Linked DNA regions of Homo sapiens: region 1 is linked to region 2. The links come from fine-mapping of genetic effects on gene expression. Tissue or cell type: testis. Region 2 holds a variant in brackets; the other region holds the start of a gene. All regions are shown on one strand. Distances are between the middles of the regions.

Region 1 (10,247 bases), 47 kb after region 2:
GTCTCTACTAAAAATACAAAAAAATTAATTAGCCTGGCGTACTGGCGGGCGCCTGTAGTCCCAGCTACTCAGGAGGCTGAGGCAGGAGAATGGCATGAACCCAGGAGGCGGAGCTTGCAGTGAGCCAAGATCATGCCACTGCACTACAGCCTGGGTGACAGAGCTAGACTCCATCTCAAAAAAAAAAAAAGAGAGAATCCTAGGCATTTAGAGCTGAAGTAGATCAAAGATCACTTATCTGGCCCTTTCACACTTCAGGAAGAGTTTGAGGCATTCTGCTTAACACACATCATCTCATTAAACTCACTTATTCAACAAAAACATTAATGTCATTTTATGCACCAGGCTCTCCTCTGGGTGCTAGAGATAAGGAGCAAACAAAATAGACAAAGTTCCTGCCTTCGTCAATCTTTTATTCTCGTGGGAAAGAATAAGCAAAATAAATGAGTGAAACAATGATGAGTTGGATTAAGATAGCCCCAAGGAGAAAAGACAAACCAGGGAAAGGGGCTGTGAAATATCATGGGAAGAAGATAGAAATGCTCAGAAAGGAGATATCTAAGTCTTCACTTTACACAATTTTGAGGAAAGACTTTAAAAATATGGGGCACTAGTGATACAAATGTCCATGGGTAGATTATTCGAGGCAGAAAGAACACCAACTGCAGACCCTGGGTGGGGACACCTCTGCCCCATTCAAGGAACACCAAGGAGAGGAGTGTTGCTGGAGGGAAAAGTCGAAAGTGGTGAGGTCAGGGAAGCAACAGGGGGTGAGATTTTGCAGGGCCTTGGGGATCATGGTCCTTTTACTTTAAACGAGCTGAGAAGTCATTGGAGGGCTGGAGCAGAAGAGTGACATGGTCATATTTATGTTCTAACAGAGCCATCCCATTGCCATATAGACTGAAGAGGGGCAAGGGTGGAAGGAAGCTTTCAAGCTAAAAAGAATGGTAGTGGTCAGGTAGTAGAAATTGTTGGATTCTGCATATATTTTGGAGGCAGGACTAGCAGGATTTGTTAGTGGATGTGGAGATGAGAGAGAGACAAGGAAGAGTCCAAAATGTTTGGCATGAGTAAGTGGAGAAATGGAGCTGCAATTTGCTGAGATGGGGAAGACCATGGGAGACCCCCACATGAGATGTACGGTGGACATTCAAATGAATGTGTCGGGTGGGCACTCAGGTACTCAGGACTATGCGGGATGGTTTGTTTTTTGTTTTTCTGTTTGTTTGTTTGTTTGTTTGTTTTGAGACAGAGTCTTGCTCTGGCACCCAGGCTGGAGTGCATTGGTGTGATCTTGGCTCACTGCAACCTCCACCTCCCAGATTCAAGCGATTCTCCTGCCTCAGCCTCCTGAGTAGCTGGGATTACAGACCCGCACCACCACACCTGGCTAATTGTTTTGTATTTTTAGTAGAGACGGGGTTTCACCATGTTGGGCAGGCTGGTCTCGAACTCCTGACCTCAGTTCAGGATAGTTTTTAAGCCTTGAGAATGGATGAGATTGCATAGTGTATGAGTGTAGATAGAAAGGAGAAATCCAAGGTTGGGGCTCTGGGGCACTCCAACATTAAATAATCAAAAAGAAGAAGAGGAACCAACAAGATAGACACAGAAGAAGTGACGTGAGACAGGAAGGAAAATAGAATATGTGTCCTGGAAGCCAAAGAAAAGCAGAGTGGTTGAATGCTGCTGTCAGGTCAAGGCAGGCAAGGACTGTGGCTTGGCCAGTAGATTAGCAATGTGAATGTCATTGGAGATCTTAAAGTGGGCAGTTTCAGTGGGGCAATCCGCGTGAAAACATGATAGGAAGGGAGGACAGCACTTGGGGAGAGTATTCTTCCAAAAATTTTCTCTACTCTGAAGAGAAAGAATCAAATAAGATAAGAAGCTGGAAGGGTCTAGTAGACCTGTGAAGTGGTGCTGTTGTCACCATGTACCCATGCTTTGATAGAATAAAACAAATTGCCCAAGTTTTTTTATTATTGTATATGGTGAGAAGCCGTTATTCTGAACCCAGAGCTCATATTCTTAACCTACACTCCACAACAAAGAGATGAAAGCAAGAGCTTCATTTATTGGTACATCTATGGGAACCAGCACAGGCCTATGGGCAAAAAGAGCCAAAAGAAAATTATGGAATACTTAAAGGAAACAGACTATTAGTCTTAATTTTAAATTTTCTATATACTATCTACCTATGCCTAATTTAAATTTCGTAGATACTCTCAGCCTGATGCAGTGGCTCACATCTGTAATCCCAGCACTTTGGGAGTCCAAGACAGGTGGATCACTTGAGGTGAGGAATTCAAGACCAGCCTGGCCAACATGGTGAAACCCCGTCTCTGCTAAAAATACAAAAATTAGCTGGGCTTGGTAGTGCACACCTGTGATTCCAGCTACCTGGGAGGCTAAGGGATGAGAATCATTTGAATCCAAGAGGTGGAGTTGGATTGCACCACTGCACTCCAACCTGGGTGACAGAGCAAGACTCTGTCTCAAAAATTAAATTAATTAATTAATTACATAAAATAAATTTATCTAGATACTGTCATATATATAGCTTTCTCATATTATTTTAACTGGAATTCTATGAAGGAGAAAATGCATGTCTTTTCTACAAATGTCAACTTCCCATTGGAGAAAGTAGCTGTCCAGGATCGGTCTTCCAGGGAGGCAGAAGCAGCATCCCTTAAGATTTTCAGTGTTTATTTTCAGTAATTTCCATACCTGACCTCTCATCAAACACATCCATTTATCCATACATTCATTCAACAAACATTCCTGATCTTCTGTGTCACCAAATCTCTTCTAGAAGCTGAGGGTGCTACAATGATCAAACCACACTAAGATCTTAGTTCTCACGAAGTTTACATTAAATGGGAAAGGGGCAGACATTTGAAACAAAACAAGTAGAGTTTTGGATGATGACAAATATAATTTTTAAGCACTTTATGGCATAGAGTAAAATCAGTGCAGGCTACTTTGAATAGGTAGGAAAGTCTCTTCAGGTGGTTGACATTGATTGAAACTGAATGAAGAAAAGGAAGCAGCTTTTCCTAGCTCTAGGGAAAGCTGGGTCCAAAAAACGAATGAGTGAAAGGCCCTCTCTTAAGTCTTAGAAGAACAAGCTAAAGAAGTCAGAAGTATAGTGAGGGTAGACAAGTGAAGTTTTAGAAGTCAGCAGCACAGAATGAGCCAAATCCCACAGGTTGCGGATCGTATTCTAAGCATGATAGGAAGCTATTGGAGATCTTGAATTCAGATCCCACTGGCTCCTAGTGGCAGATGGATTGTAGGAGATGAGGGTGAAAACCAGGAATCCAGTTGAAAAGCCACTGGAGTGGCTCAGCCAAAGGGAATGGTGGCTGGAATGGAGGGTTGGACTAGGTTGGCAGCTGGAAGGGATGTTAGACCAAGAAATCTGTGCTATGGAAAGAGGGATAATCTGATGGATTCACAGAATATTTTGGACTTAGAGCTGGCAGAATGATAACGGAATGCCGGGGGTTGGGGGGGTGGGGGAGGCAGTGAATGATCACAGGAGAGAAACAAAAAGTGACCACCTAGGTTTCTGGCAAAAAACAGGCTGGGTGATGATGCCTTCTACTGGCAGGGCACAGTTTGAGGAAGCAGCAGGATTGGGATGGGACTGGAAAAAAGAAATCATGAGATCTCTATGCGATACCTCATCGGCGATGTTGACCAAGCAGTTGGATGTGTTGCAGGGAAAAGTGAGATATTCAACCTGAAATTCAAGTCCCACCCCTCATAAAGCTATTCTTAACAAAACCGGTCCAAAGTATCTTACCCTCCTTTGAAATCTTTATGACACTTCCTATCCAAACTTCATTGGGCAAGTGTATTTGGTTATCTTCTGCCTTGTGGTATGTTTTGCAGATTTTTTTCTTTTTTTTCTTTTTTTTTTTTTTTTTGCAGATGTTTCTAATTCAGAAGACGAGTTCTGAATTAGAACCCAAGAATTGCACTCCTATTTCTGTCCCTAAGAAGCTGGGTGATCAATGGGTGTCACTTATTCTTTAAAGGTGACCATGTCCTCACCTAAAATTAGAGTTAGGCAAGGATTAGGTAATTAATGTATTGCTTATGTTACTAAGTAATAGTTAAGTAATTTATTTCATAATTACTTCACTCATTGAAATCAAGCACTATGAACTTCTTTAAAGGTCCATAGCAGAGAGCACAAAGCGTGTACGCAGTAGGCACTCAATAAATGCAGACAGACTGACATGCACAGTCAAGCTAAACTCTTTAAATTCCTAAAAGAGTAATTGTTAATGTTTTGAGGAAGAGTCCAGCATCTGAAGGAATGAGGGGCACAGGTTGGGAAGTGCCCGACTTCCTGCCCCACCTGGGGACCCCGCCGCCTTTCAGTGGCTGCGCCCTCCTCCGCCCCAAACCCTCCCAGTCTGGGAGCCCAGGGTCCCACGTGGGGATGACGGGGCCGGGCTGGTGCGTACCTGGCGGGTAATACCGGAGCAGGAGGCTCTTGAGCTTCATTTTCTTGCTCTCTTATCCCCGGCCGATGGGCTTCGTAGCCTTGGAAACGGCTAAACAGCAGCGGGACGCGGGTGCGCATGCGCAGGTTGCACCGCGCGGTCCTGGGGCGCAGAGCTGGGAGGTCTGGCTCCGCGGGCGGTTGGTGGCGACCCGGGGCTCCGGCGCGCGGGGGGCGAGTGTTCTGGAGGTGTCTAGAGTGAAAGAGGTGAGGGCACCTCGTGTCCTCACTAAGGGCGACCTCAGAGGAGCTAGGCATGGCCGGGAACCGACGGCCTAGGCCACAGCCTGGGCTGCATGCACTTTTTTAGCACACTGCGTTTCCCAAAAGGAAGGCTGGGAGGAAAAGCCCATCGCTAATTACTACTCTAGGGCCCCAGCCCGTGCCCTGTCCTTGTCCTCCCAAAAGAAAAATGACCTCAACTTAATATTTTGCATTTCCTGACTCTGTGCCCTACATTGCTTTAAACGGTGTATGCACACATACTCATACAATCCTAACAAGGTGTGAGTTATGCACCACTTCTTAAGGATGAAGTAACTCAGAATTAGAGAAAGTGGAGAACTACCAGAGGTCGCAGCCTAAATGGATAGGCGGGAATGGAAGGCAGGTGCGTCGGAACCTACACCAGAAAGCCTACACCTGTGCTCTCAACCTGGGCTTAAAACTCTCCAGGCCTTCATGCGGCTTGTCCAATTTCTTGCCAGCATCGTTGTTTGCCTGCCACGTTTCCATGAGAAAGCCTGCGGAGAGACAGAGTCAGCCAACCAGCTTGTCAATTTCCTTTAAGGAATTTGGCCTCAACTGGAATTTCTCAAACTTGAGTCATTCCTGTGTTATCTGCGCAACTATGAGCCATATCTCTCCTTACCTCTTCCAGAGATCCATACCTAAGTTTTAAGTTCTTAAAATGTCTCTAGATTGACTCACTTATTTTACTTCACTTAGTAAAATGTAATCTTAAAAATTACCTTTACTTTTACAGTTACTGGCTGTTTACTGAAAATTATATGAAATTTAATTCCATCTGTGAAGTTTTTATTTCTAAATTTAAAATTATATGAAATTTTCAGTAAACAGCCAGTAACTGTAAAAGTAAAGGCAATTTTTTAAAGGCGTTGAATTGCTTGTTAAAGGCTGAGCCATCGGGAACTTGTGCGTCCATCTCAGGGAGACCTGGCCTTCAGAGATGACAGCATTCAGCCCCAGGAGGAGCCTGCAATTCGTCCTCGGTCTTCCCAGCTTGTGCCCCCCATGGGGATACAGGACAGTAAGGAGCCAAACAGAACCTGCTGCCTGAATGGGGGAACCTGCATGCTGGGGTCCTTTTGTGCCTGCCTCCCCTCCTTCTATGGATGGAACTGTGAGCACGGTGTACGCAAAGAGAATTGTGGGTCTGTGCCCCATGACACCCGGCTGCCCAAGAAGTGTTCCATGTGTAAATGCTGGCACGGGCAGCTCCGCTGCTTTCCTCAGGCATTTCTACCTGGCTGTGATGGCCTTGTGATGGATGAGCACCTCATGGCTCCCAGGACTCCAGAACTACCACCGTCTGCATGCACCACTTTTATATGCTAGCTGGCATCTGCCTTTCTATACAAAGTTACTATTAATTGACATTGACCTATTTCCAGAAATATGATTTTAGATATCATTCAAATTTCATGACCAGTAAAGGCTGCTGCTATAATGTCCTAACTGAAAGATGATCATTTGTTAGTTGCCTTAAAATAATGAATACATTTCCAAAATGGTCTCTAACATTTCCTTGTAGTACCAAATACTTCTTACCTCTTTGCCCTGCCCTCCCCACAAAAACTACTTCTTTTTTCAAAAGAAAGTCAGCCATATCTCCATTGTGCCTAAGTCATGTTTCTTGATACATGTAATTCTACCAAGGTCTTCTTAAAAGTTCTTTTAAACAATTGAATATTATCTTCAGATTATTAAAGACCAATCCTAATGTGGACCTTAGGATACAGTTTTGAGTAGAGTTGATAAAAATCAATTAAAATAGTCTCTTTAAATGGAAAGAAAGCCTCTTTAAGGGGAGGAAACAGAGGGCTGAAGGAATGGAAGTTCATCTGCATGTATGCAGGGAGACTGGGTAGGAAAGAGGAAGCAAATGGGAGAGAGAGGTTGGAAAACATAAAATGGGTTACTTGATGGTGATTAGGTGGGTGTAGAGAAGAAAGTTAAAAGGCTAAATGGAAGGGTAAGTTTCCGTCATCTATAGAAAGCTATATGAGACAAGGACTCCAATTTTTTTCCCAAAGGTGTTGTAAAAAGAATGAAGTCTCCTTATAAAAAAAAAATTATACCTCAATGTCCCCAACAAGACTGCTTAATAAATTATGTTTCCTCCAAGCTATGCAATTCTTTTAACTGTTGTAGAAGAGAAAATGTTCACAATATATTTAGTTGTAAACCAAATGATAAAACTACATATTGTAAAGCCAACTTTTAAAATACATTGTATATATGCGTATGCACAGTAAAAATGGAAAATATATTGACCTAAAGGCATTGAATTACTATATACTACTATATATTACTATATTACTATATACTAATTACTATATACTGCCAAAGACTCTGAACCCAAAACCATCCCTTTCTTTGTAAACAAAGGAAGGAAGAAAGGAAAGAAAGAGGGAGGGAGGGAGGGAGGAAGGGAAGGAAGGAAATTAGCAACTGTTTGAGATTGTTAAGACAGGCTACAAGACGGAATAGCACTCAACTGAGCCTTCCTACTTGATGTGTTCAGAAGATTGAAAAGATTGTTGAGATGGCAAAGCCTTTGCTACTAAGTGACACAATTTAACCCAATATAAATGTGCAAAAAAAAAATCATCTTTTTCTCACCAGTAGTAAGCATCCCATACTTGGAAAACAGGGAACCGTATGAAATCCAAGCTCTCTCCCAGCTCAAACTTTCTCCTAGCCACTAAGACACTCTGGAAGGACTTATGGAGGGAGGGGCAAAGAGTTTGCTCTATAGAAATGAGAAAGTCTTTGGTAGATTTTGGTCACCTATGTTATTGCTTGTGCTCATGCCATTTAAAATGTGATCTTTGGGTGGGGCACCCATTTAAAACGTGATCTTTGGGTGGGGCACGGTGGCTCTTACCTATAATCCCAACACTTTGGGAGGCCAAGTTAGGAGGATTGCTTGAACCCAGGAGTTCAAGACCAGCCTAGGCAACAAGGCAAGATCCGGTCTCTACAAAAAAATTAATTAGCTGGGTGTGGTACATGCCCCTATTGTCCCAGCTACTCAGGAGGCTGAGGTGAAAGGATCACTTGAGTCAGGGAGGACATCACCAATAGTGGGACAAACTGACATATATTACCTGGTATTACGATGCACTGAAGAGAACACAGCAAAGCCGGGTGCAGTGGCTCATGCCTGTAATCCCAGCACTTTGGGAGGCCAAGGTGGGCAGATCATAAGGTCAGGAGATCGAGACCATCCTGGCCAACATGGTGAAACCGCATCTCTACTAAAAATACAAAAATTAGCTGGGCGTGGTGGAACGTGCCTGTAATCTCAGCTACTCTGGAGGCTGAGGCAGGAGAATTGCTTGTACCAGGGAGTCGGAGGTTGCAGTGGGCCGAGATCGTGCCACTGCACTGCAGCCTGGCAACAGAGCAAGACTCTGTTAAAAAAAAAAACAAAAAACAATAAACAAAAAAAAACAGCAATTCTCTGGAATTCCTGCCCAAAATGAATTACTTGACTCAAATCATAAGGAAACATCGGAGCAAACCAAACTGAGGAAATTGTATAAAATAACTGTTGACAGTCAAGGAAAGAAAACTCTAAAGAAATACTTGAGATTAAATAAATCTAAAAAGGACAACTAAATGCACTGAGTGATGATAGATCCTGAACCAGAATAATAATTACTTACAAAGGGCATCGTTGAGACAATGGATGAACTCTGTATATAGGGATTGTGGTTTAGATAATAGTATTTTATCAGTGTTAAGTTTCTTGACTTTGATCATTGTACTGGTTATGTAAGAGAATGTCCTTGTTCTTAGGAAAAGTATACTGATTTATTTCAAAATAAAAGGGCATGCTGGCACCCTGATCTCAGACTTCCAGCCTCCAGAACTGTGAGGAAGAAGTTTCTATTGTTTGTGAGCCACCCAGTCAACGGTACTTGTTATGGAAGCCTGAACTAAGACATTCCCACCAGGACCTGCCTTGAACAACCAGAAACTAAATAATGAGTAGCAGTAATTTTAATCTCCTAAACCAATCCAGGCTAATACAGTGAAGTCACTCTAGGCTTCAGTTCTCCAAGCATGGTTCCCGGACCAGCAGGGTCAGTATCACTTAGGAATTCATCAGCAATGTACATTTTCGCCTCCCCCGAGTCCCGACCTACTGAATCAGAAACACTGATGGTGAAGTCCAACAACCCATGTTTAAATGTGCTTTCCTGGTGATTCTAGTGAATGATGAAGCTTGAGAGCCACTGTGCTAGCTTAATAGGTTACACTGGCTTGGACAGAACGAAGTGAGTGAAATTGGGCTTCATCTCCAATGATCAGGTCTTTCTGTGTATTCCAGGCAGTCTTCCCTGATTGTCAGGAACAGTAAATTGATTGTTCAACCACATCCTCGAATGTAAATGAGAACCAGAAACAACACGGGAAGAAGCTGGAATTTTCTACATAATTGGGTTTCAGATGCTCCAATGCACTGAGAGAGGACAGTGGACATCAGGCTGAGGGAAGAATCAGAAGGTACCTGGGAGGATGGGAGTTGGGGAGGGAGGTAGTCTCTAAAATCAAAATATGTATGGTGGCTCTGGTGGCTCACGCCTGTAATCACAGTGCTTTGGGAGGCCAAGGCAGGAAGACTGCCTGAGCTCAGGAGTTTGAGACCAGCCTGGGCAACAGGGAAAAACCCCATCTCTACAAAATGTACAAAAATTAGCCCAGTGTGGTGGCACTCACCTGTAGTCCAAGCCACTCAGGAGGCTGAGGTGGGAGGATGGCTTGAGCCTAGGAGGCGGTGGTTCAGTGAGCTGAGATCACACCACTGCACTCCAGCCTGGGTGACAGAGCCAGAACCTGTCTCAAAATATATATATATATATATGGATGTAGTATATCTATACATATATATATTTATATTTATAGAGAGAGAGAGAGAAAGAGGAGGAGGAGGAGAAGGAAGAAGGAGTCAGTCCGGGGGATCCAGATTCTGTATTTTTGAGGCTGGGCAAGGTAAGGGAGGAGTAGGGCTTCCGGCTGCGGCTGGGCTTGGTGGATTCCATTTGGCTCAGCTTCTCCTGGAGAAAACCAACTTCAGTGAGATGACTGCATCACTGGTGTTGGAGCCTCACTGAGAGCAGCAGATAAAAAGAGAGATGCAATCCTCTCCTAGAAAGAGAAGGCACAGATGCTCAGAGCCAGGCAGGAGCAGTCTGCTGTGCACAGGGTTTAAAGGTGACCTCATCACAGCAGGCCCCAGAGCGGAGGAACGGCATCAGGGTGGGGGCATGTGGACCAGACATCGCCATTTACCCTCTTCCTCTGCCTGCCTCCATCCCCACAGCAGGACTCAAAAGCATCTGATCTTACCTGGGACTTGAAAACTAACAGGGCCAGGGCCACTAATTGTATCATTCAATAAATGTGTATAAAGGACCTGCTAGTACCAGGCATGCTGCTGTTATAGATCTAATTCTGAAAAATATTGCAAGGGAGT
Region 2 (10,247 bases):
GCTGGTCTTCCTTCTTTCTCACTCCCTGCAGGAGCGCCCTGTGCCCTCCATCATAGCCCCTCACCTCTTTTCTCATCAAGGAGAAGGATTTGATATTGTGTTCACAACAAAAATCTATGGCTTGTTTTCCCAGTGCTTTCAAAGTACCTACATCTTAGTTAACACTTGAAAATCATAAGCCCAAAGATTTTGAAGATCGTAAGCCCTGTGATTTCGGAAACTGTCCATCATTAAGTAGACTGGGGAGGCATTTTAGGTGGTAAGGGGAGATAATTCTCAGCACCCCTGAAGTTATCTGACAAGGAAACCACCTAATTGGCCAATATGTAAAGCCAGCCTTGGGCCTGTGGCATTTAACTTATTAGACTAGTAATTTTTAAATTTGCTCAACATGATGAGAATCACTGGTACTTAGGCAGATCTGGTCTTCTGTGCTCACTTAGGGTGCCCTACTCCACACTATTGTGGCACCCATTCCCTGCCAAGGCCTCCCCTCGAGGCACTCCACTAACATGATACCATCATCTTGTCATTTTTCTCCCCTTTCCACGATCTAAACTACCCTTTTCTTATGAAATGTTGCTAATATTATTAATTCACCATAAACTGTTAACGGTTGAAAAATGGTTAATACATGTTCTTTCCCCCCAGACATTAGTGCTTTAGCAGGGGAGAAAACAACTCTGCTCAAAGAATAAATCTCTAATGGGCTGTAAAGCCAACTGGGGAGAATTTTGATCCTGACTTGTTTTGGTTACTAACACTTACTGACATAAACTCAACTTTTTTCTTGAGACAGGGTCTTACTCTGTCACCCAGACTGGAGTGCAGTGGCCTGATCATAGCTCACTGAAGCCTCCAACTCCTTGGCTCAAGTGCTCCTCCAGCCTCAGCCTCCTGAGTAGCTGGGACTACAGGTGTACGCCACCATGCCCAGCTAATGCTCTATTTTTTTTGTAGAGACGGGGTCTCACTATGTTGCCCAGGCTGGCCTCAAGCATTTTTTCTGCCTCAGCCTCTCAAAGCACTGAGATTGTTGGCATGAGCCAATGCGCCTGGCTGACTAAATATTAACCATTCAATTGATAGAAAACACCTGGGGAAATTTAGTAACCTGTAAGGCAGGCTATCAAATTGTTACCTTATCTAGAGCAAATAAAATTCAAAGTTCACAAAGGCTTACTACAGTCAATGGCAGCGCTCACTCCTGTGGGTCCTCATAAAACTAAAATTAAATAATGAAAATATGAGGGCAGGCCAAGATGAGCTAGTGACTCCAGAAAAGAGGTAGGGAATGGGGATGAACTCCTGTTAGTATTCAGCTTGGGAACTCTAACAGCCAATCAAGAAAAAATGAGTCTATGGTGTTGATGTCTTCCATACCTGTAATGACTATGTTGCCTTTATAGTTGAAAGCACATGAAAAGATTTCATCAGTGTGCCCCTCAAGAACCTGGAGGCACTGGCCAGTCTGAGCATCCCAGATTCTAGCCGTTTTGTCAGAGCTGCCAGTTAGAAGATGGTTCCCTTGAGGGTTGAAAGAAATCTGCAAAAGAGAAAGAAAAATGATCACAGCTTTGTGTAATGGTTCCCAAAACATTTCTTATCAGCAAAAAAAAAAAAAAAAAAAAAAAAAAAAGGACATTACAGCACATGTCACCTTCCTAGTCTGGTATTTATTCTTGCATAGAACAATTTCTTCATAATGGAAAAAAATATTGCAGGGACTAGTACATGGAAACTAAAATCCAGAGAGAAAATGTAATTGCCTACTCCTCACATTTCTAAGAATAAAGACCAAAGCATCCTTATAATTTGAGTATTCCCCACCCAGCTTCTTTCCAAAGATGCACGATGCCCTTCTCTGTGCAAAGATGCAGGGCCCTGGTGTGGATGAACACACGAGTCAGGATCCTTCGTAGCCAAACCCTGGTGTCATCTTTGTGGTCAAAAGCACACAGATCCGGGCCAGGGGCGGTGGCTCAGGACCGTAATCCCAGCACTTTGGGAGGCCAAGGCAGGTGGATCACCTGAGGTCAGGAGTTCAAGACCGCCTGGCCAACATGGCGAAACCCCGTCGCTACTAAAAATACAAATTTAGCTTGGCATGGATGGTGGCACACACCTGTAATTCCAGCTACTGGGGAGGCTGAGGCAGGAGAATCGCTTAAACCTGGGAGGTGGAGGTTGCAGTGAGCTGAGATCATGCCACTGCTCTCCAGCCTGGGTAACAGAGCAAGACTCCATCTCAAAAAAAATAATAAAAAATAAAAATAAATAAATAAAAATTTTTTAAAAAGCACACAGATCCTTCTCTAATCTGTGCCATAGAATAAGTGAATGTAGAACCTACAAGAAAGGATGTTCTCATCTACTGCCACCCCAAGTATAGCATTTTCCATAAATACGCTTCTGTGCCTCCCGTGTGCCAGGTGTTGCCAACTGGCATCTGAGTGACCATCAAAGGAACCTGTTAGTCCTGCATCCCTTTGGGTGTCACACTTACATCCCCCTCTAATCACCAGAAGACAGAGATTCGGGCCATCTCCTCAATGACTGAAGGTTTGAGGAGGGCAGGGCCGTATCTGTTTTTATCACTCTGTTACCAGTGGCTGTGCAATGCCCAGCACAGTGGACACTCTCTAAAAGTGTTTGTTGAATGAGTGAATACTTTAGCTTTGCACCCCATAGAAATGCCCTTACCAGATGCCAATTCAATAAGTAATATGTTCATTTAAAAAGCATAAAATGTAATAAAATAGCACTAGAGAATTCTTTGTATTCACTCATTCATGAAAATAGATGTTTACTTATGGAGGAGACACACAGATGTCTCAATAGCTACCTAGCCAGACACTCAGAAACATGGGCCAGGCTTCCTCCTCATCCTGCCTCCCACACCCCACTTTTCCATCCCCTCCTGCCATCCATAAGCCTCCCAGCTTATGAAGAGGCCATAGTCTGCATGCCCTGGAGACCACCACTGACCAGCCAGAGGGCAATGATCACCAGCTGTAGGTGCAGAAGCAGAAAGGCCGAGAGTACAGCCTGGGGCGGAGTTCCAGGGTCTAGAAGGGGCCTTTAGAAACCTAAAATCATCAAGCTGATATTTTGCAAAGCAGGAACAAATCTGATCTCAGACAGGGAACCAAGGGATTGTGCTGAGCTGGGAGGTGAGAGCCACCAATCCTAGCCTACTCTACGAAGTTCTGATGACACATCTAAACTTCAGATCACTGACTGGGTGGGCCTGCTCCGTGAATGATCCTTTGGGGGAAGTTTATACAAAATCCTAAAACACAGCTTTGTAGTTTCAAAATGGATAATTTTATAATTTAATTTTAATTATAATTTTACATATTTCCAGGAACTACTTCCTCAATTGCATCTAACTTACAGAACACTTGATACTTGCTGCCCAGCATATTTTTCGCACAACATAAACTTATGTGTTTACCGGAACCAGGAAAAGCAGTTTACACGCTCCTTAAATTGCCATATTAAATATCTTCAGCTAACTAAATCTTTTGCTGACAGTGGAGGCGAATGCTGTTCCATACTTTTTAAGAGGTTTTAGAAATAATTTATTATGCTAAGTTTGAGGGCACAGTTAAAAATAAAGTCTTTAGGTAAGTGATTTCTAGAAAAAAACATGAGACAATAGAACAAATCTTAATCTTAGTACTTCAATTCCAATAGACCTATTTATACTGAGCATGCTTTTTTTTTTTTTTTCTTTTTTTTTTTTCTAGATAGGGTCTTGCTCTGTCACCCAGGCTGGAATGCAGTGGTGCAATCACATCTCACTGCAGCCTTGACCTCCTGGGCTCAAGCAATCCTCCTTCCTCAGCCTCCACAGTAGATGGGACTACAGGTGGGTAACACCATGCACAGCTGACTTTTTTTGTTTTTTGTAGAGATGAGGTATCCCTATGTTGCCCAGGCTGGTCTTGAACTCCTGGCCTCAAGCAATCTTCTCACCTTTTCCTCTCAAAGTGCTGGGATTATAGGTGTGAGGCACTGCACCTGGGCCCTGCTCTTTATTTTTTGAAAGTAAATAAACTCCTCCAAATGAGAAAGCGACTCACCTTTGAAATTTCACCTTCATGACCTTCCAGTTTGGCAATGCATTTTCTTGTGGCAGCACTGAAAATTCTTGCTGTTCCTTTTTGAGAGGGGTGGGGATATATATAAATTCATCTTAAATACAGAACTTTGGATAAAAGACTTTGCATTGTATAAATATATATCCCCCTGACACACGAGCTCTGTGCTAAGTTCATCTTCTTGCCTGTGTTGAGAGCCAGATACTTAATACTCTAAATGCCTGCTGGTCCCATTGCAGGAGAGGGTGAGAGGGAGCTCCTCTTTAGCCCTGAGCTTATTAGAAGAAATAATGTATTCCAAGGTAGAAAAGAGACCAAGAAGCAGGAATCCAGAAAGAAAAAACTTTAAGAGAAAAAGAGGAATTAGAGCAAGTTTCAAGAGGCAGGTGATGAAATAAGCAGCAAGACCAGCATGATACACTAGGTGTGAGTCTGAGTTTCTGCAAGGTACACAAGGAACATCCCAAGAAGGAGCATCAGCCGCTACTCAACAGGCAAAAAACAGGCTTCAAAAACCCTTTTCTACAGAAAAAGCTAATAGAATGCTTTTTTCCTGCTCTGCCTCCAGCGCCAAAAGCGCCAAGCATATATTAGCCATTCAATAAATAGCTGTAGTATGGATGGATGGATGGATGGATGGATGGATGGATGGATGGATGGATGGATGATGGATGGATGGATGGATGGATGGATGGACGGATGGATGGATGGATGGAGAAATGGATGGAATAAGTACTATGGACATTTCCTCATCAGTAAAGGATGAATAAGTTAAATAAATAAGTATTGAAAGTGAAAAACATGAGTAGTAAAATTTTTGTTAGAAGAAAACTTACAATTTGCCTTGCCAGATGAAGACTGCTTTTTTAAATCTCTGATTATAGCATTACATAGTAGTAAAATATAGCAAGGATACAAAATTGTAGGTACTTGATTTGCATCCAGAGAAAAGTAAAATATCATAATAAATTTTTTACTTGCCTTTCTGACAATGTCAACTTCATGAGGAGGTACAAAAAATGACAAAACCTGCCATTTTAGAATTAATGTGATTAAAAAATATATAACTTGAAATTCGGTTGGACATTTCAAAAGCCTTAAAGGGAAGTGACCAATTTGGTTTCAGAGTCAATAACATGAAAGAGAATGTCCTGCACAGATCTACACTCTAAGTTTTATAAAACTATATGTCTAAACTTCAGAAAACTCAGAAATAATATGGCCTGCAACACTGTAATTTTTTTACAGATAGGGATACAACTAAAGAAACAAAAAAATCGGCTGGGCGCAGTGGCTCATGCCTGTAATCCCAGCACTTTGGGAGGCCGAGGCGGGAGGATCACGAGGTCAGGAGATCGAGACCATCCTGGCTAACACGG[T/C]GAAACCCCGTCTCTACTAAAAATACAACAAATTAGCCGGGTGCGGTGGTGAGCACCTGTAGCCCCAGCTACTCGGGAGGCTGAGGCAGGAGAATGGCATGAACCCAGGAGGTGGAGCTTGCAGTGAGCTGAGATAGTGCCACTGCAGTCCCACCTGGGCGAAAGAGCAAGACTCCATCTAAAAAAAAAAAAAGAAACAAAAAAATCAGCCTTCAGAATAATTCCAATAAAGAAGAAAAAGTAGATAGATCGATCGATAGATGGATAGATACATAGATAGACAGACAGACAGACAGACAGACAGACAGACAGACAGATAGATAGATAGATAGATAGATAGATAGATACTGTCATGCATGGTCATGAGGGAGACGACACAGACATAGCTTAGTGTCACATGTTGTCAGAGAGATAACATAAACATAGTGTAGGGTCAAATGTGGTTATCAAGGAGATGATGCAGATACAGTGTAGTGTCATACATTGCTGACAAGGAGATTATACAGACATAGGTCAGAATTATGGAGCTGACACATACACAGTGTAGCATCATACATGATCATCAATAAGATGATCCAGATGTATAGTAGTATCTACACAGGAGTCAGAATGTTAACATAGACATGCTGTACATCATATGAGGATTTAAAGGAGATAACGCAGACATAGTATAGCCTGATGTGTGATCACTGTCAAGTTCAGGTAGATGAAAAAGACATAGTGTAGCATCACATATGATCATCAAGAAAATAATGGAGACTTCACAGGTCATATGTGGACTACAGAAGATGATACCCAAATAATATAGTATACATGGCCATCACGGATATGACATATATCCATGGTTATCATATGTAATTTTCTAGAAGATGATGCAAAATAGTAAAGCACTCTACAAGGTTATCAAGAAGATGACAGAGAAATAGTATAGCATCATACTTGGTTTTCAAGTAGATGACATGCACATTGACATTCATAATACGTGACTATCAAAGAGAATGACCTTGGTTTAAACATCATACATAGTTACCAAAGAGACAACGCAGTCATAACAGCATCATATGTACTTCTCAAGCAGATTTTGCACATATAGTGTGGCACCATATATAGTTGTCAAGGTGATAACACAGATATCTTGCAGCATCAAATACTGTCATCAGTGAGATTACTCATAATATCATGCATAAGTATTTTTAAATTGATGTAAACATAGTATAAATTAATGTACTGCTGTTAAAAACAATGCAGACATAGCATATAACCATAAGTGGTTGTCAAGGAGATGATTACATATTAGATATAGTGTAGCAGTACATTATTTTCAGGGTAATAGTCATACAGGGTCTCAATAAGACAATGAAGACATAATGTTGCATCATACATGGTTATCAGGGAAATCACAAAGATTTAAATGCCACAGATGTTTATTAGAAATATGTGACTGATAAAATAGCTATCATGAAAATATGCAGAAATAATGTATAATCATATGTAACTTTCAAGGTGATGGCACAAACATTGTAGCATTATAAATTGTCCTAAATGAGATGAACTACGGCATAATATCATAAGGAATTTTCAAGGACATGATATAGACAATAGTATAACATTGATGTGGTTATCAAGAAGAGGAAGTAGATACAGTGTAGCATTATATATGGCTATTAAGGATATGACACATAAGATAGCATCACATATGGCTGACAGAGACAATTATATTTTAGCACAATAAATGGGAGTAGTGAGATGAAACATAGTACATATATTCAGTGTTATTAAGAAGACCAAAACAGAGTCTAGTACCATAGGATTTACTACAGACAGGGTATGTTACAGCATCACACATCATTCTCAAGGAGATGATTATCAGAGGTTATTGTCAAGGAGGTGTCACAGAAATAGTTTAGCATCACACAGGGTCATTGCAGAAAAGACATAGTTATAGTATTAATCCCACTTGGTGTTCAAAGAGATAATGCAGACATCTTCCAGCATCAAACATGGTCATTAGGAAACTGACCCATAAAATAGCATACTTTATGGATATCAAGAAAAAGAGGCAAATATAGAATAGCATATACATAGTACTTAAGTTGATGACACACAAGTGATGACACATACATAGAGTAACACCATACATTACCATCAAAAAGATGACCCATAATAGATTGTCATTTGAGAATATTGTGGAAATAATAAAATCATAGTATAGCATCATATATCATCATCAAGTAAAGGATGAAGATATAGTTTACATCACTACACAACATGAATAAAAGCAGAGCATCATATATTTATCAAAGTGTGCTGCAGTAATACTATACCATAACACATACTTAATAAAATTATGATGCAGACAGAGTGTGGCACCATATGTTTTTGTCAAGGGTATGATGCAGACATTATGTAGCATCACTGTCATCAGGGAGTTTAGCCATAGTACAGCAGTATCATACATGGCTCTCAAGGAGGTGAAAAAGTCATAATGTACCAATATATGTAGTATGTTAAAAGATGATACAGACATAGTATAGCATGACATGTAGTTGTCATGGTGGCCTATAGCCTAGAATTATATATGATTATCAATGATGTAAACATATCATGTGATTAAAAGGATGACATATATTAGTACGACATTATCTAAGACAGATATCATATTGATTCCAACATAAATTTCAAGATGGTGATGAAAACATGTAGCATCATAGGTGGTTTTCAAGGTGATGACCCTGATAAGATGTAGCACAATACATGTTAATGCAGACAGTGAAGTAGACATCATGTATCCTCATAAGTGATCATCAGTGAGATGAGGCAGACAATACAATGCCAAATGTGGGCATAAGGGGGATGACATAATCTAGTGTAACGTCATATGTAATCTTCTTGGATATAAGGTGCACAGAGTGTAGCATCATACATGGTTTCCAAAGAGATGACACAGAGTGGCATCACATATGGATATCAATATGATGGCTCAGCGTAGAATCATAAGTAGTAATCACTATTTATGACAAGTAACATAGATCACTACTTATGACAAATAACATAGATCATCAATGGTTGTAAAGGAGATTTGGTATACATAGTATAGCATCATAGGTGGTTATCAAGGAGATGGTGCATATAGTATTATAGCACCAGCCACGGTTATCAAGTTTAAGATGCAGACATATTGTAGCATCATACATTATGGTCAGAGAAATGACCCAAAATATAAGATAATCCTCAGTACAGGATCATAGATGATGAAGACACAGTATAGCACCATATTTGTTTATCAAGGAGGTGGTGCAGACATAGTACAGCATCACTCACGGTTATCAAACAAATGAGGTAGACACAGATGTGATGTGAGGTCCTATGTGTTTATCAAAGAAATGCCACAGAAATATTGTTGCATTATAAAGGCCTTTAGGAACATGAATAGACCTAATGTAAAGAAAGAGAGAGAGAGAGAGAGAGAGATACAGATATATGACTCTCTCTCTCAATAGATTAGATAGATGATGATGATGATGATGATGAAGATAGATAGACAGACAGACAGACAGACAGACAGACAGACAGACAGATAGATAGATATGATGACTGTCTTCTGGCAGAAGGTGTAGACATGTTGTAATGTCATACATGATGATCAGGGAGATGACAGAGACACTGTAGCATCTCAGTGGCCATAAAGAGCATGACATATGCATAGTACAGGGATATATGTGGTGTACAAGGATTCTACAAAGATTGATTTTAGAACCATACACAGTGCCAAGGAGATGACACATGTATAGTATCACATGGTTATCAGTGGGATGATGTGCATGTAGAGTACCATCACATATGGGAATTTTAAAATGGCACATAGGATAGCATTATACATGAATATCAAGGAGACGACATGCATGAATGCAGCACTGTGGGTTTTCCTCATGGAAATAACCTATATTATGGCATCATAAATGTCACAAAGGAGCTGGTCCATATAAATATCAGGCATCATATGTGGTTATCAAGGAGAAAAGCATTATCTGTGATTTTCAACATGATGAAACACACAGTATAATGTCACATGTGGTTATCAAGGTGATGACTCAGAAATAGGGAGATATAACACATGGTTATAAAGGCGGTAACTTAGTATATCATCTATAGTTATTAAGGAAATGAAGTACACATAATATAACATCACATGTCGATATGAAGGATATTATGTAGTCATGTTTTAACACAATATGTGGTGATATCAAGACCCAAACAAAGGATAGTGTCACAAATCATCATCAAGAAGATGATCTTCTCATGCGAGGTTCTGAAAGATGAATCCTAAAATTGCATGTCACTTTGTTATCTAGGAGATGATTCAGATATAGTACAGACTCATACATGATTGCGATTGTAAAGGAGATGACAGAGAAATAGTTTAGCAATATACATGCTTGCCAAATGTTCAAGCTCCTTTGTAACATTTATGATGCTATAAGCAGTGATAATATTGTACAACATATAGCTGTCAAGGATGGGGCATCAAACATGACCATCAGTGATAGGACCCAAAATGTGGCATCATATATGGTTGCCAAGGAAATTTGGAGTGATAGTGTAGCATACATAGTTGTCTAAGACATACAGATGCAAACGTATGAGAGCACAATCCACAATTATCATGTTTATCATTGCAGACACATGGCAGCTTTTTATATGATCATCAAGGAGATAACCCAGAATATGCCATCCTACATGATTAACAGGTAGGGGATGACAG

What was found. PIP is the estimated chance that this variant, and not a neighbour inherited with it, causes the effect.
Region 1: DAW1 starts here. The variant in region 2 is the best candidate, but not a certain one, in a credible set for the expression of DAW1 in testis (GTEx, PIP 0.87).

What each region holds. Positions count from the first base shown.
Region 1 is chr2:227,865,964-227,876,210 of GRCh38, reverse strand. DAW1 (dynein assembly factor with WD repeats 1) reads right to left here and starts at 4,580. Exons shown (of 13, transcript NM_178821.3): 1 at 4,482-4,580. The coding sequence starts at 4,521. It also overlaps the pseudogene CRIPTOP2.
Region 2 is chr2:227,912,698-227,922,944 of GRCh38, reverse strand. It overlaps DAW1 (dynein assembly factor with WD repeats 1), which reads right to left. Exons shown (of 13, transcript NM_178821.3): 11 at 4,089-4,165; 12 at 1,384-1,546. Among named protein-coding and RNA genes, the nearest start is that of DAW1, 46 kb to the right of the region's middle. The variant T/C (reference allele first, on the strand shown) is at 5,486.